Linked DNA regions of Homo sapiens: regions 1 and 3 are each linked to region 2. The links come from fine-mapping of genetic effects on gene expression. A gene starts in region 2. Each other region holds a variant in brackets. All regions are shown on one strand. Distances are between the middles of the regions.

Region 1 (10,500 bases), 270 kb before region 2:
CAGAAACCTCTTCCAGCTTCTGACATCCAAATGTCAAGCTCTTAGGAGAAGAATGGAAAGTCCTCAAGAAATGCAAATAGCTTTGGCAGAATAGCTGATGAAGACCACCTCTCCCCCCTCCAGAAAGGCATTGGTTCCCCATTCATGGAAAAGGGAATGTAGAGAGAGATTAGACAATAGTACATCCATAAGGTTCCTGGAATCTGCATCTGAGGAAGAGGGGCGTCAGAGACCCCAGCTGTTATCTATAATCCCTCCTCACAGATAAGGCCTAGAGAGGCTCCAAGTTCTCAAAGAAGATATGCTACATGGTGTAGACATTTACAAAGAAATGACCTCAGACAGCCAAGGAGGATACCCCATGGCCCAGCCTAGTGAGAAGAAGGTGGGTTCCATAGGAATCCCAAGTGCCAGGTGGAGACAGAACTGTAGAGGAAAACTAGGGATAAGCAGGGAGCCATCGTGCATGAATCAAAACAGAGATCTAGACTGACACCATGGGCCACAGACACCCCGGGGCTGCCTCTGATGCCCAAGCTTCATGGACAACCCCAAGTTCAGAACCAGATGAATATTTAGCACAATATTTAGCAGAACTAAGTTTCCACCACCATGGAGAATGGGGATTCTCAGTAGAAAGTCAATGGAGCTGCTGGGCAAGAGACTGCTCACTGTCCCCCAGAGCCCATCGCCTCTTTGTTCTGGGAACATTGCCTGGCCACGTCTCAGAGGTTCCCCTCTGCAGCCATGAAATGTGCTTTGGTCCTGTGGAATGTGAGCAGAACTGACATGTACCACAAACAAACCTGGCTTTTCAATGTCTCCTGGGACACTCCTCTAAACTCCTCCTCCCCCGGCCAACGGGGCAAGGGATACCCATGTGATGATTTAGAAGGCCACATGTTGTAGACGTGGCAAAGCCCCCATTAGCCTGGGTCCCTGAACCATTCTAGGAACAGCCTCCCTTCCCCCAACTGCCTCATGTGGTCAAGCAGAAAATAGACTACCATGTTGACAAATGACATGCTTGGCCTGTTTCCACAGCCCAATCCACCCAAACCAGTGCAGATGCAGGAGAATAGAGTTCTATTTCTTGCACATCTGGGATTACAGCTTCAAGTTCATACCCAACAGAGACATCCATCTTGTTGGGTGGTCTATAGGAAATAATAATAGAAGGAAACAACAAAGGCCCTAGTCCACCTTAATTGTAATTGTTGTGATGCTGAGTTTGTCTCCTCTGTGGGCTTGGGTGTCTGGGCAGATCTCATGTGTTTGTGGGACAATGCTCTGGGTTATGGGGATGCCTGCAGATAGGATGATGCCTAATTGTCTGTCATGTTAGCAGATCTAGAGGGTTAGCCATCCCTGTCCCTCTCCAGATCCAGCCCAGGCTGGGCCTGTCACATTCAGCTGCAAAGCCATGTCAGGTTAGGATGGTCCATGTCAACATCAGCAGGCAGACCCAAGTGTCACCTTCTGCTACAGGCCTTGGAAAGCCAGCCAGCCTCCTCCACTTCAGCTCCCAGACTTCATCCAACCTGAATTTCACTCTCGGGTATCCAACTGGTATTTAGCACCAGGTAAACACAAAACGAGGCCAGGCACAGTGGCTCGTGCCTGTAATTTCAATGCTTTGGGAGGCTGAGAGAGGAGGATGGCTTGAGCCCAGGACTTTGAGACCAGCCTAGGCAGCAAGTCGATAGATAACTCTTTTCTACAAAATTTTTCAAAATTAGCCAGGCGTGGTGGCACACGCCTGTAGTCTCAGTTACTCAGGAGGGTGAGGTGAGAGGATCACTTTAGCCCAGGATTTTGAGGCTGCAGTAAGTCATAGTGATACTACTGCACTTCAGCCTGGGGGACACAGCTAGACTTTGTCTCCAAAATAAATAAATGTAAAAAATAAGGCCGGGTGCAGTGGCTCACACCTGTAATCCTAGCACTTTGGGAGACTGAGGTGGGAGGATCACCTGAGGCCAGGAGTTCGAGACCAGCCTGGCCAACATAGTGAAACCCTGTCTCTATAAAAATACAAAAATTAGCCACTGTGGTGGTGCGTGCCTGTAATCCCAGCTACTCGGGAGGCTGAGGCAGGATAATCTCTTGAACCCGGGGGTGGAGGTTGCAGTGAGCAGAGATTGCACCACTTCACTCCAGCCTGGGCGAAGGAGTGAGACTCAACCTCAAAAAAAAAAAAATCTTATCTGACTTTGATTGCATTACAATCAATTTAGTTATCAGTTTTGGGAGATTTAGCATCTTTATGATAAGCCTTCCTATTCATAAATATGATATATCAAATAGGACTTGTACATCTTTAGCTTTATTTTATGTATTATAAGCAATCCTTTTTTCCATTACATAATCTAAATTATTATTGGGGTAGAAGAAAGGTATTGAGTTTCCAATGTTGATATCTTGTGTGGCAAACTTACTGAACTTTCTTGGTGTAATAATTCATCATTTTACACACTTACATTGTCTATGCTAAATTTGAATTATTTCTTAACAATTTTAATACCTCATTATATATGTATTTTTTTAGTTCCTGGGCTAAACCTTTCAGCAAAATATGAATTAGCATCATAATCTTGTTTCCATCCTTGTATGGGTTAGTTCTATTGTTTTACTATTAAGTCAGGCAGTTGATGTAGATTTCTGATAAAAATTTCATCTTTTTTTTTTTTTTTTCTGAAGCAAACTCTGGCTCTGTCACCCAGGTTGGAGTGCAGCGGCACAATCTCAGCTCACTGCAATCTCCGCCTCCCAGGTTCAAGCGATTCTAGTGCCTCAGCCTCTATAGTAGCTGGGACCACAGGCACGCACCACCACTCGGGGCTAATTTTTTGTATTTTTAGTAGAGATGGGATTTCTCTATGTTGGCCAGGCTGGTCTTGAACCCCTGGCCTTAAATTATCTGCCTGCCTCAGCCTCTCAAAGTGGTGAAATTACATGCATGAGCCACCGTGACCAGCCAAAATTTCATCAATTTTGTTATGTTTTCTTCTATTCCTGGCTTGCCAAGATTTTTTAAATTAGAATTTTATATTGAGGCTAGGCACAGTGGCTCATGCCTGTAATTCCAGTACTTTGGGAGGCCAAGGAAGGAGAGTCATTTGAGGCCAGGAATTTGAGACCAGCCTGGGCAACATAGCTAGATCTCGTCTCTACTGAAAAAAGAAAAAAAAATTAGCTAGGCATGGTACCTGTATTCTCAGCTACTCAGGAGGCTGAGATGGGAGGATAACTTGAACCCAGGAGTTAGAGGCAGCAGTGAGCCATGATCACACCCTTGTACTCCAGCCTGGGCAACACAGCGAGACCCTGTCTCAAAAAAAATTTGTGTTGAATCATATTAAATACTTTTCAGCATCTATTAACATGATCATACGAGATTTTAATTCAATCCTTTAACAAAGTTATTCACAATGAACCATTCTTATACTCTTGGGAAAACCTTACTGGGTCACAATCTATTATTCTTTTTTTTTTTTTTTAGAGACAGAGTCTTGCTCTGTCGCCCAGACTGGAGTGCAGTGGCACGATCTTGGCTCACTGTAAGCTCCGCCTCCCAGGTTCACGCCATTCTCCTGCCTCAGCCTCCCGAGTAGCTGGGACTACAGGCGCCCACCACCACACCCGGCTAATTTTTTGTATTTTTAGCAGAGACGGGGTTTCATCGTGTTAGCCAGATGGTCTTGATCTCCTGACCTCGTGATCCGCCCGCCTCAGCCTCCCAAAGTGCTGGGATTATAGGCGTGAGCCACCATGCCCGGCCTCTATTATTCTTTTAATATGTGATGGATATGGTTTGCTTATGCCTTATTTGGGTCCTACATAGTTTTCATCTGGGGGCTGTTCTCAGTCCTTTGCATTGGGGCAGTGCTGGCAATGCAGAATGGGTTGAGAAGCATTCAATGTGTTTCTGTGTTCTGGAAACATTTCTATGTCATGGGAATTAGCTGCTTCTTAAAGATTGGAGTGGGCCGGACATGGTGCCTCATGCCTGTAATCCTAGTACTTTGGGAGGCTGAGGCGGGTGGATCACCTGAGGTCAGGAGTTCGAGACCAGCCTGGCCAATATGGTGAAACCCCCATCTCTACTAATAATACAAAAATTAGCTGGGCATGGTGGCACACAACTGTAATCCCAGCTGCTCGGGAGGCTGAGGCAGGAGAATCACTTGAACCCGGGAAGCGGAGGTTGCAGTAAGCCAAGATCACGCCATTGCACTGCAGCCTGGGTGACAAGAGCGAAACTCCATCTCCAAAAAAAAAAAAAAAAGTTGGAGTGAACATGCCTGCAAAATCTTCTGGGCCTGTAATCTTTTTCGTGTAGCAGATTTTGAGTACTTTGTCTTCACTATGATGGTGAAAGCAGCAACTCTCGGAGTCAAGTACAAGCCACTGTTATGAGCAGCTTCGGAGTATTGATTCTTTTGGTCTCCACACTAACCCTATAGCCTGCATTCTTACAGACTGAGGATAAAGCACAGGGAGCTGGAAAGACACAGTGCAGGTCTCACAGCGAATTCACTGAGGGGCCAGGATTGGGAACCAGGAAATCTGCCACCAAAAGCCGTGTTCTTAAGCACTAGGTGGACAACACTGCCTCCCATCGACCGTTAGTAGCAATTCAATCTTTTTACCTGCTGGAGTCACTTGTTAATCACTTACCTTTCTCTTAACAAATCATTTTTATTTTCGACATAGAAGCTAACTTGAAGGAGCGCCCACTGGCCCAGAGTGGTACAACTTAAACATCAAAAATATTAATAACGGCCAGGCGCGGTGGCTCACTCCTGTAATCCCAGGACTTTGGGAGGCTGAGGCAGGTAAATCAATTGAGGTCAGGAGTTCGAGACCAGCCCGGCCAACATGGTGAAACCTCGTCTCTACTAAAAATATAAAAATTAGCCAGCCGTGGTGACAGTCACCTGTAATCCCAGCTACTCGGGAGGCTGATGCAGGAGAATCGCTTAGAGCTCGGGAGTCGGAGGTTGTAGTGAGCCGAGATGGCGCCATTGCACTCCAGCCTGGGCAACAAGAGCAAAACTCCGTCTCAAATAATAATAATAATAATAATAGTAATAACAATAATAGATTTAAACACACCAAATATATA[T/C]CATATTTAATGATGAAGGATGGAATACTTTCCCTATAAGATCAACAACAAGGAAAGGATGTCTGCTCTTGACACTCCTATTTGACATAGTGCTGGAAGTTCTAGTCACTGCAAGAAAAAAACGCAAACAGGGCCCGGCGCAGTGGCTGACGTCTGTAATCCTAACACTTTGGGAGGCAGGAGGATCACTTGAGACTAGGATGTCAAGACCAGCCTAGGCAACACAGCATGACCCCATCTCTACAAAAAATATTAAAAAATTAGCCAAGCATGGTGGCACATGCCTGTAGTCCTACCTGCTCAGGGGGCTGAGGCAGGGAGATCACTTGAGCCCAGGACTTTGAGACTGCAGTGAGCTATGATCACACCAACACTGCACTCCAGCCTGAGGAATAGAGTGAGACTCTGTCTCAAAAAAGAAAAAAAGGCATTTAGATTGGAAAGGAAGAAATAAAACTGTATCTGCAGGTGACATGAGATATGTGTGTGTGTGTGTGTCTGTGTGTGTAGTTGATGCAAAAATAATTGCGGTTTTTGCCATTGAAAGGAATGACTGCTGGGCATGGTGGCTCACGCCTGTAATCCCAGCACTTTGGGAGGGTTTTTTTTTTTTTTTTTTTTTTTGAGATGGAGTCTCACTCTGTCACCCAAGCTGGAGTGCAGTGGTGTGGTCTCGGCTCACTGCCAGCTCCGCCTCCCGGGTTCACGCCATTCTCCTGTCTCAGCCTCCCGAGTAGCCGGGACTACAGGCACCCGCCACCACGCCCAGCTAAATTTTTGTATTTTTAGTAGAGACGGGGTTTCACCTTGTTAGCCAGGATGGGCTCGATCTCCTGACCTCGGGATCTGCCCTCCTCAACCTCCCAAAGTGCTGGGATTACAGGCATGAGCCACCGTGCCTGGCGTTTTTCTTTTCGTTTTTTTTTTTTCTTTTTTTTTTTTTTTTGGAGATAGAGTCTCACTCTGTCACCCAGGCTGGAGTGCAGTGGTGTGATCTTGGCTCACTGCAACTTCCACCTCCTGGGTTCAAGCGATTCTCCTGCCTCAGTCTCCCTAGTAGCTGGGATTACAGGCGCCCACCACCATGCCCAGCTAATTTTTGTATTTTTAGTAGAGACGGGGTCTCACCATGTTGGCCAGGCTGGTCTTGAACTCCTGACCTTAGGTGATCCACCTACCTCAGCCTCTCAAAGTGCTGGGATTACAGGCGTGAGCCACAGCCCTGGACGGATGTATTTTCAATACATGTCTTTATAATGCATGTGAAAGCTAACGCATACATGGGAGACAATGAAGGGACCAATATGGTGGAAGTTTTCCATATTCCACTTGAAGTTGCAAAATATTCAATCTAGGTAGACTATAGAATGTTTAAGTGTGTTTACCATAATCCGTAGAGCAATCACTTAAAACTTGCAAAGATATATAGTGAAAATCACAATAAATAAATTAAAATGGAGTACTAAAATAGTATTTGAATAATCCAAAAGAAAGAAGGAAAAGGGAAAACAAGGAACAAAACACAGAAAAGTGGAAATAAAAAACAAATAATAGTAGACCTAAAGCAAAACATACCAATAATCATATTTAAGGCACATGATCTAAACACACAAGTTATAAAATATTTTCATAATGCACTTAAAAAAAAAATAGCCAGAGCCGGGCGCGTTGGCTCACACCTGTAATCCCAGCACTTTGGGAGGCCAAGGCAGGCAGATCACGAGGTCAGGAGACCATCGTGGCCAACAAGGTGAAACCCTGTCTCTACTAAAAATACAAAAATTAGCTGGGCGTGGTGGCGGATGCCTGCAATCCCAGCTACTAGGGAGGCTGAGGCAGGAGAATCGCTTGAACCAGGGAGTCAGAGGTTGCAGTGAGCCGAGATCGCACCACTGCACTCCAGCCTGGCGACAGAGGGAGACTCCATCTCAAAAAAAAAAAATAGCCAGGTTCAAAGGCTCATGCCTGTAATATCAGCACTTCGGGAAGCCGAGGTGGGTGGATCACTTGAGCCCAGGAGTTTGAGATCAGCCTGGAAAACATGGTGAAACTCCGTCTCTACTAAAAATACAAAGAAGTTAGCTGGGTGTGGTGGCACACGCCTATAGTCCCAGCTACTTGGGAGACTGAGGCAGGAGGATAACCTGAGCCCAGGAAGTCGAGGCTGCAGTGAGCCATCATCACATCACTGCACTCCAGCCTGGGTGACAGAGTGAGGCCCTGTCTCAAATAAATACATACATAAATAACTTGAGCCCAGGAGTTCAAGATCAGCCTGGGCAACATAGTGAGACCCCATCTCTGCAAAAAATTTCAAAATTAACCTGGCATGGTGGCTTGCACCTGTAGCCCCAGCTACTCAGAAGTTTGGGGCAGGAGGTTGTTTGAGCCCAGGAGGTCAAGGCTGCAGTGAGCCGTGTTCACACCACTACACTCCAGACTAGCAACAGAACAAAACCTTGTCTTAAAAAAAATAGAAGTAGGCCAGGCGCGGTGGCTCACTCCTGCAATCCCAGCATTTTGGGAGGCCAAGATGGGCTGATCACCTGAGGTCAGGAGTTCGAGACCAGCCTCACTAACATGGTGAAACCCAGTCTCTACTAAGCATACAAAAATTAGCCAGGCATAGTGGCAGGTGCCTGTAATCCCAGCTACTTGGGAGGCTGAGGCAGGAGAATCACTTGAATGCAGGAGGCGGAGGTTGCAGTGAGCCGAGATCACGCCATTGCACTCCAGCCTGAACAACAGAGTGAGACTCTGTCTCAAAAAATAAAAAAATTAAAAACTTAAAAAATAGAAGTAGGCCGGGCGTAATGCCTGTAATCCTAGAACTTTAGGAGGCCAAGGCAGGCGGATCACTTAAGGTCAGGCGTTCGAGACCAGCCTAGTCAACATGGCAGAACCCCGTCTCTACTAAAAATACAAAAAATTAGCCAGGCATGGTGGTGCGCACCTGTAGTCCCAGCTACTCAGGTGGCTGAGGCAGGAGAATCACTTGAACCCAGGAGGCGGAGGTTGCAGTGAGCCAAGATCACATCACCACACTCCAGCCTGGAAGACAGAGCAAGAAGAAAGAAGGAAAAGAAAGAAGAGAAGGAAAAGGAAGAAAAGAGGGAAGGGAAGGGAAAGGGAAAGGGAAAGGGGAAGGGGAAGGGAAGGGGAAAGGGAAAGGGAGGGGAGGGGAAGGGAAGGGGGAAAGAATGAAGGAAAGAAAGGAAAGGAAAGGAAGGAAGAAAAGAAATGATTGTTTGCTTGGTGTTGGAGGGGCTTGAGGGGGTGGGGAAAAAGGGGGGAACCCACACATTTGATCAAAGAACTCTTCTGTGTTGACTGTTGTGGTATGAGAGCAGAGAAAATGCATTGTGTTTTTCCTGAAACACAAGACTCCGAGGCCTACATCACTCTTGCCCCAAGTAGTGCTTTTCTCTCAAGATGCTCAGGAGGAATCTTTAAACAAAGATGATCAAGGAAATGAGGCTTATTTATAGGTCTGTTTTGAAGGTGGAACCAGGGATTCCTCAATTGGCCAATCACTTGAGAGAGTAGAAGGAGCTGTCACCCCATCAAACCAATCAGAAGCCAGGTGTTGGTTCCCACCCTATGACATACCACCTCCAATTGGCCAGTAGAAGTAGAGAGACAGGCTAGGAGGCGGGGCCTGCCTGGCCGCCATGGTAATCCCCTGTGGTTGGTGATCAAGGAAGAGCATAGTGCCAGACCTAGGTGCCCTCCTGGGAATGTTCCAGGAGGGCAGGAGTAGGAGGAGGAGTGTTAGAGTAGAGGGGAAATGATGAGAGCAGAAAGGGTATCATAAAGGAACCTCAGGGGTGATATAAGTGGACACAGACATATGTCACAAGGGCACGGGTTTAGAACAGGAAGGCTGTTGTACGTGGTTGGAGAGGGAGTTCAAAGAGTCAGAAAGCTGGTTTCAGAAGTTGAGAGGTGTTAGAGGGAGACAGGGCAGGACTTTGTAAGGTGACAAAGAAGTAGAGACTGAAACCCTGTCTCTACTACAAATACAAAAATTAGCCGGGCGTGGTGGCGGGCGCCTATAGTCCCAGCAAGAGGAGTGAATAGGTGGTCAAATAAGGTCTTAGAGGAGCTAAAGGGGCAGGGAGCTTATGGGCGAACAGGAAAGGTTTACAGCAGGACCCCGCAGGATTCATAGGGACGAAGTAAAGGATATTATAAAAGGAACAGTGAGAGAGCTAACAGAAGTTTTACTTTGGGGGGCAGAGGTGGGAGGATCACCTGAGCCCAGGAATTCAAGACCAGCATGGGCAACATTGTAGCAAAACCCCATCTCTACCAAAAGAAAAAAATTTTTTTTTTTTTTTTTTTTTTTTGAGAGAGTCTCGCTGTGTCACCCAGGCTGGAGTGCAGTGGCAGGATCTTGGCTCACTTCAACCTCCACCTCCCGAGTTCTGCCTCAGCCTCCCAAGTAGCTGGGATTACAGGTGCGTGCCACCACGCCCGGCTAATTTTTGTATTTTTAGTAGAGACGGGGTTTCACTATGTTAGCCAAGGTGGCCTCAAACTCCTGACCTCAGGTGATCCGCCCACCTCGGCCTCCCAAAGTATTGGGATTACAGGCGTCAGCCACCACACCCAGCAAAACAAAAACAAAACAAAACAAAATTTTAGTTAGCTGGGCCTGGTGGTGTGCACCTGTAGTCCCAGCCACTCAGGAAGCTGAGGCAGGAGGATCACTTGAGCCCAGGAGTTTGAGGCTGCACTGAGCTATGATTGTGCCTTTGCACTCCTACAGCCTGGGAGAGAAGACCCTGTCTCTGAAAAAAAAAAAAAAAAAAAAAAAAAAACAGAAGACAAAGAAGTTTTACAGGGTGAGAGTTTTATAAGGGAACAGTGAATTTATAATGAAGGTTTTATACCCAAACACAGGTCCAGTCACTCCACGCTTGCAGAGTCCAATTAACAAGAGCAAGTTCTGGTAGAAAGAAGGTGACTTTATTCCAGAGCTCAGGTGAGGGGAAGAGGTACAGGTTCCTGCCTTAAGGGTATTGCTTCAGCTTTCAGGACAGAAAGCAGGGACTTTTAAAGGGGGGCTTGATGTGAATGACATAAAGGTGGGGGGCAAGGAGGTGTGGGGTCTATGTGACATGCTTTGATGTCTTATCTATCAGGTGTTCTAGCTGTCACCATCGTGAGAAGAGAAATTGACCATTGTCTCAAGGCAATCTGATGGGAGAGAATTCTGGGGGTGCCTGATTTGTTTCAAGGTTCAGTCCCTGGAACTTCTAAGTAAACATATTGTTAGATAAGCTTGCCATGTAGGGAGGTTACAGTTGCATTCCTAAAGAGTTAAGTAGGAGATGGGGGGAAAAGAAAAAGGAAAAAAATCCTTTTTT
Region 2 (9,684 bases):
CAGGCGACTATGTGTGCAGAGCTGAGGCTGGGCTATCGGGCCTGCGGGGCGGCGCCGCGGAGGCTCGGCTGACTGTGAACGGTGAGAAGGCGGGGCTTCCTAGGGGACCTGGCCCGTCCTGGGATAGGGAGCGGACAGAGGGGGCAAGGGCTAATGCAGTGGGAGTGGCCTGGAAGGAGCTTTACACCCAGCGGGGGCTGGAGACCGGACCTATTGAAGGCGAGGCTTTTAGGAGAATCGGAGTTTGGAGGCGGCGTGGCCTGATTGATTGAGGTTAGCGGAGAGTGCGCTGGACAGACCCGGCTTTGTTACAGCCTTTGGGGAGGGCAAGACCTCTCCTCTGAGTGACCTACAGTCTCCATCCCAGCTCCCCCAGTAGTGACCGCCCTGCACTCTGCGCCTGCCTTCCTGAGGGGCCCTGCTCGCCTCCAGTGTCTGGTTTTCGCCTCTCCCGCCCCAGATGCCGTGGTAAGGAAATGTCACTCCTCCCGTGACCCATCCAGCCGTGATCCCTGACCTCCCACCTGGCCCCCCGAAACTACTGTGACCATTTCTGACTTCCCAGACATCCCTCCTGCTTCTTCCTCCCCTCCTCAGTCTCCTCCGTGTCCTCCCTCTTTTGTGCCCCCAGGTCTGGTCTTGGGATGAGGGCTTCCTGGAGGCGGGGTCGCAGGGCCGGTTCCTGGTGGAGACATTCCCTGCCCCAGAGAGCCGCGGGGGACTGGGTCCGGGCCTGATCTCTGTGCTACACATTTCGGGGACCCAGGAGTCTGACTTTAGCAGGAGCTTTAACTGCAGTGCCCGGAACCGGCTGGGCGAGGGAGGTGCCCAGGCCAGCCTGGGCCGTAGAGGTGAGACCCCAGCCCGAAGACCCCAAATCTGGAGAGTCTAAACCCCACAAACGCAGGGATCCCCCAGCCGAGGGCTGCAAAACCTCATACCCTCAAATGCAGAGGAGACCTCCAAACCTCGGGAGTCTCAAAACTGTGGGCTCATTGATTCCCAAGACACCCCTCAACCACAAATGCCTTCACATTCTGAATCCTAAACTGAGAGACTCCTCACACCTAGGGGCCCCAAAAAGGGAAACTCCAATGATTGCAAAGCAAATTGCAAAGTAAAGGACCCCTCAAATTCTAAGACTCCCTAAAGCCAGGGAGTTTAAACTCACTCTCAAACTTGGGGAACCCCAAATTCAAGGGCCTTTGAATCTTCAAATGTGCGACCTTTTGAACCCAGGAATCCCAAACTCAATCCCTGAGCCCCCGCTTCCTGGTTCCCCCTCAGCCTTCTCAGGATGTCCCCTCTGCTCCCTGCAGACTTGCTGCCCACTGTGCGGATAGTGGCCGGAGTGGCCGCTGCCACCACAACTCTCCTTATGGTCATCACTGGGGTGGCCCTCTGCTGCTGGCGCCACAGCAAGGGTTAGTGCCTGAGCCCCGCCCCGGCTCCCGAGGCCCCAGCCCCACACGCGCCCTGCCTGCCCAGTGACCTGACCTGGCCTTGGGCCTTGGCTCCAGTCCCATTTCCAGCTCTGCACAGGGCTTAGCTCTCCTTCACGTTCTGGTTCCCTCCTTAAGCCCTAACTAGGCCTTCCCAGGGTCACACTCCTCGGTGGGAATGATTCTTATTGGTTTCCAACAGCCCTACCCAATCAGCCTCATTGGTTCCCAGTCCTCTCTCTTCCCGCTTATTGGTCTGCACACATTGTGACCCCGCCCATCGCTTAACTCCACCGGTCGCTGTTTGTCAGCCTCAGCCTCTTTCTCCGAGCAAAAGAACCTGATGCGAATCCCTGGCAGCAGCGACGGCTCCAGTTCACGAGGTCCTGAAGAAGAGGAGACAGGCAGCCGCGAGGACCGGGTAGGATGCCAGGGTCCCCAGACCTGACTGTGCCTCCAGACCTAAATAATAGCCCAGTCCCAAGAGGGTCCCCAAATTCAAATAGGACTCTAAGGCCAGGCATGGTGCCTGACGTTGGTAATACCACTTTGGGAGGTGGAGACACAAGGATCACTTAAGGCCAGGAATTCAAAGCCAGCCTGGACAGCATAGCAGGACCCCATCTCTACAAAAATACAAACTAAAATAAAATAAAAAATGAACCGGGTATGGTGGCATACACCTATAGTCCCAGCTACTCAGGACACTGAGGTGGGAGGATCCCTTGAGCACAGGAGGTAAAGGCTGCAGTGAGCTATGATTGCACCATGCACTCCAGCCTGGGCTACAGAGCAAGACCCTGTCTCCATTTTTTTTTTTTTTTTTTATGTAGGAGGGCTCTAGTCTTTTTTTTTTTGGCAGAATTTCACTCTGTCACCCAGGCTGGAGTACAGTGCTGCGATCTCGGCTCACTGCAACCTCTGCCTCCCTGGTTCAAGTGATTCTCTTGCCTCAGCCTCCTGAGTAGCTGCGATTACAGGCGCCCACCACCACGCCTGACTGATTTTGTATTTTTAGTAGAGATTGGGTTTCACCATGTTGGCCAGGCTGGTCTCAAACTCCTGACCTCAGGTGATCCACCCGCCTCGACCTCCCAAAGTGCTAGGATTACAGGCATGAGCCTCCACGCCCGGCCTGAGGGCTCAAGTCTTTTTTTTTCTTTCTTTCTTTTTTTTGAGACGGAGTCTTGGTCTGTAGCCCAGGCTGGAGTGCAGTGGCGCGAACTCGACTCACTGCAAGCTCCACCTCCCGGGTTCACACCATTCTCCTGCCTCAGCCTCCAGAGTAGCTGGGACTACAGGCACCCGCCACCATGTCCAGCTAATTTTTTTGTATTTTTAGTAGAGACGAGGTGTATACCGTGTTAGCCAGGATGGTCTGGATCTCCTGACCTCGTGATCCGCTCGTCTCGGCCTCCCAAAGTGCTGGGATTACAGGCGTGAGCCACCGCGCCCGGCCAAGGGCTCTAGTCTTAACAGTGACCCCACACCCAAATGTCACCCAAGTCCATGCCCCTGACCCAATTATTCCCTAGGCCCAGTATGTCCCCACAGCCCGTTTTTGTTGTTGTTGTTGTTGTTGTTGTTGTTTTTGAGATAGAGTCTTGCTCTGTCGTCCAAGCTGGAATGCAGTGGTGCAATCCAGACTCACTGCACCCTCCACCTCCCAGTTCAAGTGATTCTCGTTCCTTAGCCTCCTGAGTAGCTGAAATTACAGGTGCCTGCCACCATGCCTGCCTATTTTTTGCATTTTTAGTAGAGACAGAGTTTCGGCATGTTAGCCAGGCTGGTCTCAAACTTCTGGCCTCAAGTGATACTCCTGCTGCGGCCTCCCAAAGTGCTGGGATTACATGCATGAGCCACTGTGCTGGCTTCTTACAGCCCTTTTATTGTCCTGAGTGCAGTCCCCAGCTCTTGGGTGCTCTTACTCCCTCCTGCCTGGCCTCCACTGGCTGGCTGAAGGTCCTTGGGGTCTGGCATTGGGGCGGGGGGATCCTCTGACTATTCCCTCTCACTAAGTTCCCTACCCCAGGGCCCCATTGTGCACACTGACCACAGTGATCTGGTTCTGGAGGAGGAAGGGACTCTGGAGACCAAGGTGAGTGTTGAGAGGGGTGGGGCTCCCTTCACTGTTGGGAGAGGCGGGGCTCCCTTCATTGTGTTTCCGTCTCTCTCCCACGCCTGTCCCCTCCTTTTTCCTTCTGTTGTCCTCAGAGTTGGGACTCAGCTCCCCACCCCACTCCTCCTGCCCCCTGGGCCATCTCACTCAGCTCCCAGCCTCAGTTTGCCTGTCTGCAGACTCTTCCCACACATCTGTCCCAGCCCTAGCCTCCATCTGGAGCCCCAGACCAGGGCTCACCCTGCCTGTGCTCTCCTCATCACGGTCAAGCCCCCTTTCAGCCACCAGGTCCTACACTGGCCCCACATCTCCCCAGACTGGTTCTTCCTCTGGGGTCCTACCTCAGGACAGCCACATTGACTCCAGGCCATCCCCAGGCCAGAGCACTTCTCTCTCTCTCTCTCTCCTGCGTACCTAGCACATGCCATTCTCTCTCTTCTTTTTTTTTTTTTTTTTTTTGAGACGGAGTCTCATTCTGTTGCCCAGGCTGGAGTGCAGTGGTGCAATCTCAGCTCACTGCAACCTCTGCCTCCTGGGTTCAAGCCATTCTCCTGCCTCAGGCTCCCTAATAGCTGGCTAATTTTTCTTGTATTTTTAGTAGAGATGGAGTTTCACCATGTTGGCCAGGCTGATCTGGAACTCCTGACCTCAAGTGATCCGCTCGCCCCAGCCTCCCAAAGTGCTGGGATTACAGGCGTGAGCCACTGTGCCCAGCCGACATGCCATTCTCTTGGCCTGAAACACTCCTACCTTCCTTCCCATGTCTACCTAATTCCTTCCTTTAGTCCTCCAGTCTCAGCTCAGACATTTCTTGTTCTAGGAAGCCCATGCTTCCGTCATGACAGCTCGATCATTTTGCCTGTGTTCCACCCATCACAGCCATGACCACTCTGATCTGGGCTTCCTTATCCCACCCACTATGCTGAGGGCTCTACCATCACAGCCCCTGTCATTGCCTATGCCTTTCCCAGGCACAGCCCTGACCCCTCTGGGTACTGTCTCATGATCTGTCATTTTTCCTTTGGTGTGGGATTCTGTGAGGACAGGGTCCAGTTCTATCCTAGTGACATGCCTTGTAGCAGCAACACAGGGTGTGACACTGAATCAAAGCCTAGAGGCTGTTGGGCAGGTGAGTGTCTCTCTCCTGTTCCCTCTGCACCTTCCACACCGACACCCCTCAGCAGGCCTATATCCCTCCGTCTCTACCTTTCTCTGCCTATGTCCTATCCATTTGCCTCTTATCACTGTTCCTCTGTCTCACTTTCTCTCTCTCCCAGTCCATGTGTGTCTCTGTGTCTCTGCCCACTCCTGTCTCTTTTTGTCTCTCTCAAGGTCTGGTCTATTTCAGTGTGTCTCTCCATCAGTGACCCTCATCCCCCCTGCACGCTCACAGACTTTACTGAGTCCCATTTGTCCCCTCAGGACCCAACCAACGGTTACTACAAGGTCCGAGGAGTCAGTGTGAGCCTGAGCCTTGGCGAAGCCCCTGGAGGAGGTCTCTTCCTGCCACCACCCTCCCCCCTTGGGCCCCCAGGGACCCCTACCTTCTATGACTTCAACCCACACCTGGGCATGGTCCCCCCCTGCAGACTTTACAGAGCCAGGGCAGGCTATCTCACCACACCCCACCCTCGAGCTTTCACCAGCTACATCAAACCCACATCCTTTGGGCCCCCAGATCTGGCCCCCGGGACTCCCCCCTTCCCATATGCTGCCTTCCCCACACCTAGCCACCCGCGTCTCCAGACTCACGTGTGACATCTTTCCAATGGAAGAGTCCTGGGATCTCCAACTTGCCATAATGGATTGTTCTGATTTCTGAGGAGCCAGGACAAGTTGGCGACCTTACTCCTCCAAAACTGAACACAAGGGGAGGGAAAGATCATTACATTTGTCAGGAGCATTTGTATACAGTCAGCTCAGCCAAAGGAGATGCCCCAAGTGGGAGCAACATGGCCACCCAATATGCCCACCTATTCCCCGGTGTAAAAGAGATTCAAGATGGCAGGTAGGCCCTTTGAGGAGAGATGGGGACAGGGCAGTGGGTGTTGGGAGTTTGGGGCCGGGATGGAAGTTGTTTCTAGCCACTGAAAGAAGATATTTCAAGATGACCATCTGCATTGAGAGGAAAGGTAGCATAGGATAGATGAAGATGAAGAGCATACCAGGCCCCACCCTGGCTCTCCCTGAGGGGAACTTTGCTCGGCCAATGGAAATGCAGCCAAGATGGCCATATACTCCCTAGGAACCCAAGATGGCCACCATCTTGATTTTACTTTCCTTAAAGACTCAGAAAGACTTGGACCCAAGGAGTGGGGATACAGTGAGAATTACCACTGTTGGGGCAAAATATTGGGATAAAAATATTTATGTTTAATAATAAAAAAAAGTCAAAGAGGCAAGTGTGTCTTAGGGAGTCTACTGGCATTATCACTCTCCACCAAGGAAGGGGTCCCTTAGACCTGTCCCAAGGTCCCTCCTCTACCCTAGCCTATGAGGTGGCTGTAGGAGTAAAACTGTGAGCCACCTCTCAGCCTCTTGCTACCTGCAAAGCACTCTAGGCTCTTTTTTTTTTTTTCTTGAGACAAGATCTGGCTCTATGGCCCACATTGGAGTGCAGTGGCATGATCTCAGCCCACTGCTACCTCTGCATCCTGGGCTCAAGCCATCCTTCCACCTCAGCCTCCCAAGTAGCTGGGACTACAGGTGCATGCCACCACACCCAGCTAATTTTTGTATTTGTTTGTAGACAGGGTTTCACCATGTTGGCCAGGCTGGTCTCAAACTCCTGACCTCAAGTGATCCGCCCACCTAGGCCTCCCAATGTGCTGGGATTACAGGCATGAGCCACTGTGCCCAGCCATGGGCTCTTTTAATATACATCTTCACACACACACACACACACACACACACGCACACACACACATGAGTTGCAAACAGAAAAGACACACACATAGGCATGTATGCACAGACACACGCATAGATGTCCACACAGTTGCACACAAGTGACAGGGCTGCCCCAGGGGTCCTGGGGAAGACTGAATTCTAACTCTCATTAGAGGAGACAAACAAGTGAGCCCTGAAGTGGAGCAGGGAAGGGGAGACTATGGGTAGGAAAATGGCAATCCCCTGGTCCTTACAGCAAGCGTGGAGATCCAGACCCTAATCCTGAGGTGCTGCATCCACAGTGGGCATGGTGCTGGTGCCTGCTTGGATGATCCTTAAAGAAAGGTCCTGGGGGCTTTGGTTCATGGATCCTTGAGCTAGGAGTTAAAGGTCCAGGCCCCTGGGACCCTTGGGAAGCAGAGCAAGAAGAGTGAACTCCTGGGTCTGAAGGAGAATGGGCTGGGGGCTTGGTCTCTGGTCCTGAGAGAGAAGGTGCCCAGACTTCTGGATCTGAAAGAGGAAGGGACTAGGTCTCAACTGCTGCCTTCTTGACTGGGGACATTTTGGAGGCCTGTATTCCTGAGCCCTCAACAGAGGAATGTACTAGGGGATGGGGGTCTCTGATGCTTGCATCCTTGGAAAAGGACAAAACTGTGAGTGTCTGGGTCTAAAGAGGGTGAGAGTCCTGCGGGAGGACTCAAAATCCACAACGGGCGGAGCCCATAGCCGGACTCCTGGCTGGGCCCTTCATGGGGCGGGACGCCTGGAATCTCGAGGGGCGGGGGCCTGGCGCAGGCTCCCGCCCGGGGTTCCCGAGCTGCTCCACTCTGCGCGAAGCCGCCACGCTATTGTCCTGACCAGGAAGGCGGGGCCGGCGCGGGGCGGGGCTGGCGGCGCCGGCGCAGCCCGGGGGCGGCGGGAGGAGGAGGTGGCGGCGGTGGCGCTGGGAGCTCCTGTCACCGCTGGGGCCGGGCCGGGCGGGAGTGCAGGGGACGTGAGGGCGCAAGGGCCGGGACATGGGGCCCGCCAGCCCCGCTGCTCGCGGTCTAAGTCGCCGCCCGGGCCAGCCGCCGCTGCCGCTGCTGCTGCCACTATTGCTGCTGCTTCTGCGCGCGCAGCCCGCCATCGGGAGCCTGGCCGGTGGGAGCCCCGGCGCGGCCGAGGTGAGGCCGGGCCGGGTCCTGGGGGATGGGGGAAGGGGCGGGACCGGGTCTCTGGACGCCGGCGCGGACATGTCCAGGGCAGAAAGCGCGGTCTTTCCAGCCAGGTGGTCAGCCCCCAGGCGCCCCCAATCACATTTATGAACCCAGGGTTCCAGGCCCCAGCTCCCCCATCATGCGACGTCCCAGCCCCCTCCCATCTCGAGCATAGGAACTGGTCTATTCAGAGCCCCTGGTCCCAGAAGTCCAGCCCCCTCTCCAGACCCAGGTGACTCGGCCCCAACCCCCTCCCGCCTGGACATAGGACCCACCAAGCAGCGAGGCATTTAGATCCAATAATCCAGACCCCTTGTATTCTCTGGACCCATATGGAGGCCCTTGCAGCCTCCCAGGACCCAGGAGTCCAGTCCTTCAGTCACCACCCACCCCAACCAGATGTAGCTCTCCAGTCCTCAAGGACCTGGTGTCCAGGACTGTAGGCCCCTGAAGCCAGGCCTTGTCAGCTTTGCATCCTGCAACGGGAGCCTGAGCAAGGGATGGAGGGAGGAGGGGCCAGAACTCCTGGGTTCTGGCCTCCTCCTCCGCGATTCAGGTTTAACCCCTTCGGGCTCCAGAGCGGCTGCGCTGGGGTGGGGGCGGAGTCTGTCTCCGCGGCAACAAGGCAGAAAGAATCCCGGGGGACCCAGGTCGCCATAGCAACGGGAGCGCTGGGGCGCCCCCGCCCTACGGGAGCTGTTTCCCAGGGAACGGTGCCTCCATGGAGGCGGTGTGCGGTGCTTGGGGGAGGGGGCTGGTGCTGGGGGTCTCGGTCCTAGGGAGCAAAGAACCAGGGGACCCTCATGCCAACGCCCCCCGAGCCCTCACTGTCCTTTCCACTTCCATCCAGGCCCCGGGGTCGGCCCAGGTGGCTGGACTATGCGGGCGCCTAACCCTTCACCGGGACCTGCGCACCGGCCGCTGGGAACCAGACCCACAGCGCTCTCGACGCTGTCTCCGGGACCCGCAGCGCGTGCTGGAGTACTGCAGACAGGTGGGCGGGGCCGAACGGGAGAGGCGGGGCCGCCCATAGAAAGCTAGACTTGAAAAAGGCGTGGTCCAGGGTGCTGCGCGATCTAAGGCGTGGAGGCTGGGGGGCGTGGCCAATAAAGAGGCGCAACTATGCTAGGGGCAGGGGACCTGTTTTGAGATACTAAGTCAGGAAAAGGGGAGAGCCGCGAGATAGCCAGAGAGGAAGTGGAATTTAGGAATCTGGTGGTCTTTGTAAAGAGTAGAGGTGTAGGGGGGAGTGGCGAAAGGATAGGCGGGGCTAAGACAGAAAGAGACCTTAAGGACCAGCAAGATGGGGAAAGGGGTGGAGCCCAATGAGAGCGCGGAGAGCTGGGGGGGCGTGGCCATGAAAAGACAAATTTATAACGGGAAGGGAGAGTTTTGGAGAGGCGGAATAGAGGAAAAGGCGGGGCCTAAAGGAGGGTGAGACCTTTGGGGAGACGAATCTGACTGCGGGGAGGGGTGACCAGAGAGGTGGGCTTAGAGGGACCTTCAGAAAGAAACAGCACAGGAAAAGAGATAGGGCTTAAAGATGACGGGACTTTTAAGGGAAAACTGCTAGTGGGCGTGGCCAATGAGCACAAGGAGCTTGGATATCTAAGGCTGGTGCTAGGGAGAAGCAGGGCCTAGGGAAGCGATGTCCTCATGAATACTAGAGCCTTGAAAACGGACCTGGCCGGGCGCGGTGGCTCACGCCTGTAATCGCAGCACTTGGGGAGGCCGAGGCAGGCGGATCACCTGAGGTCAGAAGTTCGAGACCAGCCTGGCCAACACGGCGAAACTCCGTCTCTACTAAAAATACAAAAATTAGCCTGGCATGGTGGTGCGTGCCTGTAATCCCAGCTACTCAGGAGGCTGAGACAGGAGAATCGCTTGAACCTGGGAGGAGGAGGTTGCAGTGAGCCGAGATTGTACCATTCCACTCCAGCCTGGGCGACAAGAGCAAATCTCCGTCTCAAAGAAAGAAAGAAAGAGGGAGAAAGAAAGAGAAAAGGGACCTGACTACTGGAGAGGGGTGGCTGGCAGGGGC
Region 3 (5,000 bases), 17 kb before region 2:
TCGCAGGCAGCCCTGCCGCTTCCACCAACCCCCAACCCCCCTACCCTGCCCACTGGGTTGGTGCCGCCAGCCCAAACAAAGCCTTTTTCTGATAAGGAGAAGCACTCTCATCAGCACCACCCCCCTAGGGCAAAGCAGTGGGGAGTGGAACTGAGTGACCCCCTCCCTGGAGTCTCTCCCGCCTCCCCGAGTCCCTGTGCATGGCAGTTTTGGGGATCTGAATCCGCCTTCTGTCCCACACCCAACTCCTGCTCTGCCTCTGCAGCCACCTGCAGGCTCTCAGCGCACTCCTCAAAATCTATTTCTGCTGTGTTTACCCAACACCACCTGCAGGAAACTCCCTTGAAATTCCCAGGCCTTTCCCAGAGTTCCTCAGTTCCTTTTCTTAAAATTCCTGCTGTCCCCAAAGATTTCCTTTGAAATTTTCCTTAATTCCAGTGTCTTTCCATAGATTACTTCCTTTTTTTATTATTGCTGCTGCACAAATTAAACTTTCCATAGATTTCTGAATCTTTCCCGATATTATAATATCTTATGATCCCAGTCTTTTAACAGATTCCTTTGTATTGCCCAGATTCTCAGCACTTCCCCAGAATTCCATCCAATTAAAATAAAATTCCATTGTCATTTCTATAATTTCTAGTCTTCCCCCCAAAGTTTTCAACTAGCTCCCTAATTCCCAGGATTCTCCTAGAATTCTATTAGGCTTCTCTTTCATTTTAATGAAATTTCATTTTCTTGCCTCCAAATCCCAAGAGTTCAGTTTAATACTAATGAATTTCCGATAGTCTGTGGAATTACTAGCTTTTCTCCAAATTTTCTTTTCTTTTCTTTTCTTTTTTTTTGAGACGGAGTCTCCCTCTGTCACCCAGGCTGGAGTGCAGTGGCACGATCTCGGCTCACTGCAAGCTCCGCCTCCCGGGTTCACGCCATTCTCCTGCCTCAGCCTCCCGAGTAGCTGGGACTACAGGCACCTGCCACCACGCCTGGCTAATTTTTTGTATTTTTAGTAGAGACGGAGTTTCACCGTGTTAGCCAGGATGGTCTCGATCTCCTCACCTCGTGATCCGCCCGCCTCAGCCTCCCAAAGTGCTGGGATTACAGGCGTGAGCCACTGTGCCCAGCCTTTTTTTTTTTTTTTTTTTTTTTTTTTGAGACGGAGTTTCGGTCTCGTTGCCCAGACTGGAGTGCAGTGGCACAACCTCGGCTCACCACAACCTGGGCCTCCCGGATTCAAGCAATTCTCCAGCCTCAGCCTCTCCAGTAGCTGGGATTACAGGCCCCCGCCACCATGCCCAGCTAATTTTTTGTATTTTTAGTAGAGACAGGGTTTCTCCATGTTGGTCAGGCTGGTCTCTAACTCCCGACTTCAGGTGATCCGTCTACCTCGGCCTCCTAAAGTGCTTGGATTACAGGCGTGAGCCACTGTGCCCAGCCAAATTTTACAGCATTGTTTTTTTTTTTTTTCTGGGATTCAAGTCTTTCCCTAAAATTCCTGACATTTCACCTGAATTCTGAGGGTTTTCACTAGAATTTTCTTTAATTTTAATGAAATTACCTTTTCTCTAGAATGCCTAATCTTGATTCAGAATTCCAATTTTTATCCTAAAATTCTCACTGTTTCCCCAGAATTTTCCTAGGATTCCATTTAATTCTCATAGCATTTGTGTCTTTCCTGATTCCCTGCCAAACCTCAGAATCTTTAGTACTTTTCAAGAAATTTAATCTTTTTCCAAGATTGCCCAAGATTCTGAAGGAGAGAAGGGGCCTGGTCCTTCCCCCACATTCCTGGCCACCCCCATAGCCCTGGCGTGGCACCAACCTTGTACCACATGAGGGAGGGCTCTGGGTTGCCCCCGATAGCCAAACACACCAGCCTCACCCGGGTCCCAGCCCGGAGCTTCTGGCCCTCTGGGGGACCCTCAATCCACAGTTTCTGGGCGGGATCTGGCGGGGAGAGGAAGGAAGAATGACTTTTTCTCTGTGCTGGGTCCTGAGGCTTGGGGGCATTGCTGGGCCAGGGCAGGGGCTCACATTTTACGTTCAGGATGAGCGACTTCTTGAAGGTCTCCTTGGTGAAGGCTTCACTGAAGGCCTCACATGTGAGGGTCAGACCGTTGTCCTCCCGCCGCGCCAGGAATGTCAGGTTGGACATGGAGATGTGACCGCCATGCAGTCCCTGGCAGGGAGTGAGCTTCAGACGTGGGGACTGCAGCACCCCTATCCATCGTGCTAGAGGCCTGAGTCCATCCCAGTCCCCAGCA[G/A]GGACACAGGAGACATCTCTACCTCCCCCTCTGTTGGACCCATGGTCCTCAAGGAGAAAGCCCCCCAGGCTGCTGGACCCACCCCTTCCCTATCCACGAGTCATGCCCTCAGCCCCCTCCATGCTCAGACCCAGGAGCCTGGCCCCCGCCTCACATCCATGACTGTCTCCTCCATGGGCAGCAGCTGCCGCCAGCCCAGCCACCATCGTAGCAGAACCCGCGGGCGACTGGACTTGCTGACACAGGAGAGTGTCACGTTCTTGTTCTCAGTCTGGGATGCAGATCCCAAGATAATAATGGCACTAGGGGGAACTGCAGGGACAGAGAAGGAAGACACTAAGCTGGGCTGGATTTCTCACAGACCAGCCCAGACAGAACAGGACTGGAGACAGATGCTGAGATCTTTGGCATCCAGTAGGCATAATTTGGGGGCACACACAGATGGTTCTCTGAGGCACAGACCGACAGGGGGGCAGCTGGCACCAGGACTCACAGGTGACCTGCAGTGTGATGCCGTGCTCCTGGGTCCCTGCAGACACGCTGTTGTGGGCCTCGCAGCTGAGCTGCGCTCCATGGTCTTCTGGCCTCACGGTCATCACCAGCACACTGCGGGCCACCGCCTGGGTGTGCTCTGTGCCCCACGCTGTGGACACCGGCTGGCCATTCTGGAGACAGGGACAGGCCTGGGCCAGCTCAGGACTGGCTCCCAGACCCCACTGTCCCCCCATTCCCCATGCCCGCGTTTGCCCTCACCTTCAGCCACTGCAGTGTGGCTAAGGGATTACCCCCTCGGGCCACGCACGGCAGCTCCAAGCTCTGTCCTGCCCGCACGTGCCCCTCATCCAGGCCTGGCCACTCGATGACAGGGGGTCCTGGAGGGACTGGGGGATATCAGTCACTCAGTGGGCCTGGAGTAGCCCATCCACTCTTTCCAGGCCCCACAACCTGCCTTTGAACCCCCATGTTTCTCTGAGTGCCTGAATTTCCATAATCCCTGTGATCCCCCCACACCCCCCAGTGCCTGCTCCCCATCCTCAGCGCCCTAGTTGGCCCAGTTCTCCACTTACACAGAACATTCACGGTGAATGAGGCCTTGATGGGGGCCTCCAGTGCTGGGCTAGACGCCTCACAGACCAGCAACTGCCTATTATCTGAGCTCCGGGGTGTCACCCTGGGATGAGAAGTCAGGGTTATAGAGTCAGAGTCATCATCTGAAATTTGGGGAGTCAGGGAGAAGAGGTGGGGATGTCACCTCTGGTCCCCACACCTGGTCTAAGTCCCCATGCTGATCTCCTCTGGGATCCAGGGTTCCATGGGAGAGATTTTGGGGGTGAACAGTGAGAATTGGAGCCTAGAGAGCCCCACATCTGACCAAAACTTTAGTGCTTGGGACTCTAGAACTGAGGTTCCCATGAAGTTTTTTTGTTTGTTTATTTGTTTGTTTGTCTTTTGAGACAGAATCTGGCTCTATCACCCAGGCTGGAGTGCAGTGGTACAATCTCAGCTCACTGCAACCTCCACTTCTTGGGTTCAAGTGATTCTCCTGCCTCAGCCCCCTGAGGAGCTGGGAGTACAGGCATGCGCCACCACACCCGGCTAATTTTTGTATTTTTAGTGAAAACAGGGTTTCACCATGTTGACCCAGCTGATCTTGAACTCCTGACCTCAGGTGATCCGCCCACCTCAGCCTCCCAAAGTGCTGGGATTACAGGCATGAGCCACCACCTCTGTTCCCCATGAAGAAGCTTTGAGAGTCAGGATGAAGAATTGGGTCCCAGATGTTCATACCTAGCCCAAGCTTCATGCTTGCATCCCTGGGGTCTGGGGTTCCCATGGGGAAAATTAGGGGTCAAGGTTGGGGGGTTGTTTCAGTTTCCACACCTGGCTGTGGCCTCCACAGTGAAGAGTTTCTGCTGGGAGCCCTCGTTCACGTTTGCAGAGATGTCAGATATTGTCTGTCCACCTTGGGGCAGCAAGAGGGCTAGAGGGGTTCCAGGCTCCCCGCAAGATAGATTCTGGGGAGCATGGCCTGGAAGTCCTCAGGGTGGGTGCGATGCCCCCTCCCTCCTCGTTCTAGAGGAAAAGGGCCTGGGGCAGAGCTGCATCCCCTCCCGACTTTCTGGACTGCCTGAATGCCGCAGTCTTCAGTGCTGGGTCCTGGGCCTCCCCGCTCTTCTCAACTCCTTGCTGGGTTGTACCATGCACCCTATCCCTCAGCTTCTCATGTCTGCACCAGCGCTACTGCCCATATTTCTATCTGGGCCTCAGCCTTGTGCTGGTTGCTGCCGCCCTCGATGTGCCCTCGCATCCACTGGGTCCCACACTGGCCTCAGCATCTCCCCACACCTTCTCCTGGGTCCCCATCCCAGGGATGACATCTTTTCTGGGGCCCTTAGAAGGGTACTGGTCAGGAACACACACCCTTCCCACTCCAGAGGCTTCATGCTGCCCCCTGCCACCCAGTTCACCCACACTCACTCAGGAGAATGGTGATGTCAGGTGCTGGCTTCGCGTCCCCAGACACACAGTTGACCACGTACTCCTGCCCAGCTACCCAGGTGACCATGGTGCCTGCCTCTGGGGTCAGCAGGAGCAGCTTGGGAGGAACTGGTGAGAGAAGGGTCTGGGGTAAGCTTCCAGCACTGAGAAGGACTTGAAGATTGGAGTTCGGTACCCAGAGTCTGGGAGAGGAGAGGCTGGGGGCTTGGACTTCCGGGTTGCGGGGTAGGGGAGGGC

Alleles and levels. Positions count from the first base shown, and alleles are read on the strand shown. Sizes are in standard deviations (SD) of each study's normalised expression. Not every link is listed here.
For the expression in sensory neurons of the gene that starts at base 7,401 in region 2, allele T in region 1 goes with a lower level than allele C (moderate effect, 0.63 SD a copy in Schwartzentruber 2018).

The links. PIP is the estimated chance that this variant, and not a neighbour inherited with it, causes the effect. A credible set is the group of variants that fine-mapping cannot tell apart.
Region 1: its variant is the best candidate, but not a certain one, in a credible set for the expression of APLP1 in sensory neurons (Schwartzentruber 2018, PIP 0.68).
Region 3: its variant is the best candidate, but not a certain one, in a credible set for the expression of APLP1 in esophagus muscle (GTEx, PIP 0.66).

The regions. Positions count from the first base shown.
Region 1 is chr19:35,587,843-35,598,342 of GRCh38, forward strand. It overlaps LINC01766 (long intergenic non-protein coding RNA 1766), which reads left to right and starts at 10,053. Exons shown (of 3, transcript NR_110750.1): 1 at 10,053-10,115. RefSeq lists an enhancer at 8,810-8,949. The variant T/C (reference allele first, on the strand shown) is at 5,129.
Region 2 is chr19:35,861,174-35,870,857 of GRCh38, forward strand. APLP1 (amyloid beta precursor like protein 1) reads left to right here and starts at 7,401. Exons shown (of 17, transcript NM_001024807.3): 1 at 7,401-7,610; 2 at 8,494-8,637. The coding sequence starts at 7,464. It overlaps KIRREL2 (kirre like nephrin family adhesion molecule 2), which reads left to right. Exons shown (of 15, transcript NM_199180.4): 9 at 1-81; 10 at 368-468; 11 at 632-851; 12 at 1,320-1,424; 13 at 1,754-1,863; 14 at 3,475-3,540; 15 at 4,984-5,963. The coding sequence ends at 5,319. It overlaps LOC107985317 (a long non-coding RNA gene), which reads right to left and starts at 8,184. Exons shown (of 4, transcript XR_001753932.2): 1 at 7,919-8,184; 2 at 6,702-6,957; 3 at 5,314-5,420; 4 at 1,742-1,828. RefSeq lists an enhancer at 1-467 and silencers at 7,222-7,481, 7,572-7,641.
Region 3 is chr19:35,846,219-35,851,218 of GRCh38, forward strand. It overlaps NPHS1 (NPHS1 adhesion molecule, nephrin), which reads right to left. Exons shown (of 29, transcript NM_004646.4): 4 at 4,743-4,871; 5 at 4,146-4,227; 6 at 3,332-3,435; 7 at 3,018-3,145; 8 at 2,758-2,929; 9 at 2,419-2,576; 10 at 2,035-2,179; 11 at 1,823-1,947. Among named protein-coding and RNA genes, the nearest start is that of NPHS1, 3.8 kb to the right of the region's middle. RefSeq lists a silencer at 1,892-2,067 and an enhancer at 4,932-5,000. The variant G/A (reference allele first, on the strand shown) is at 2,265.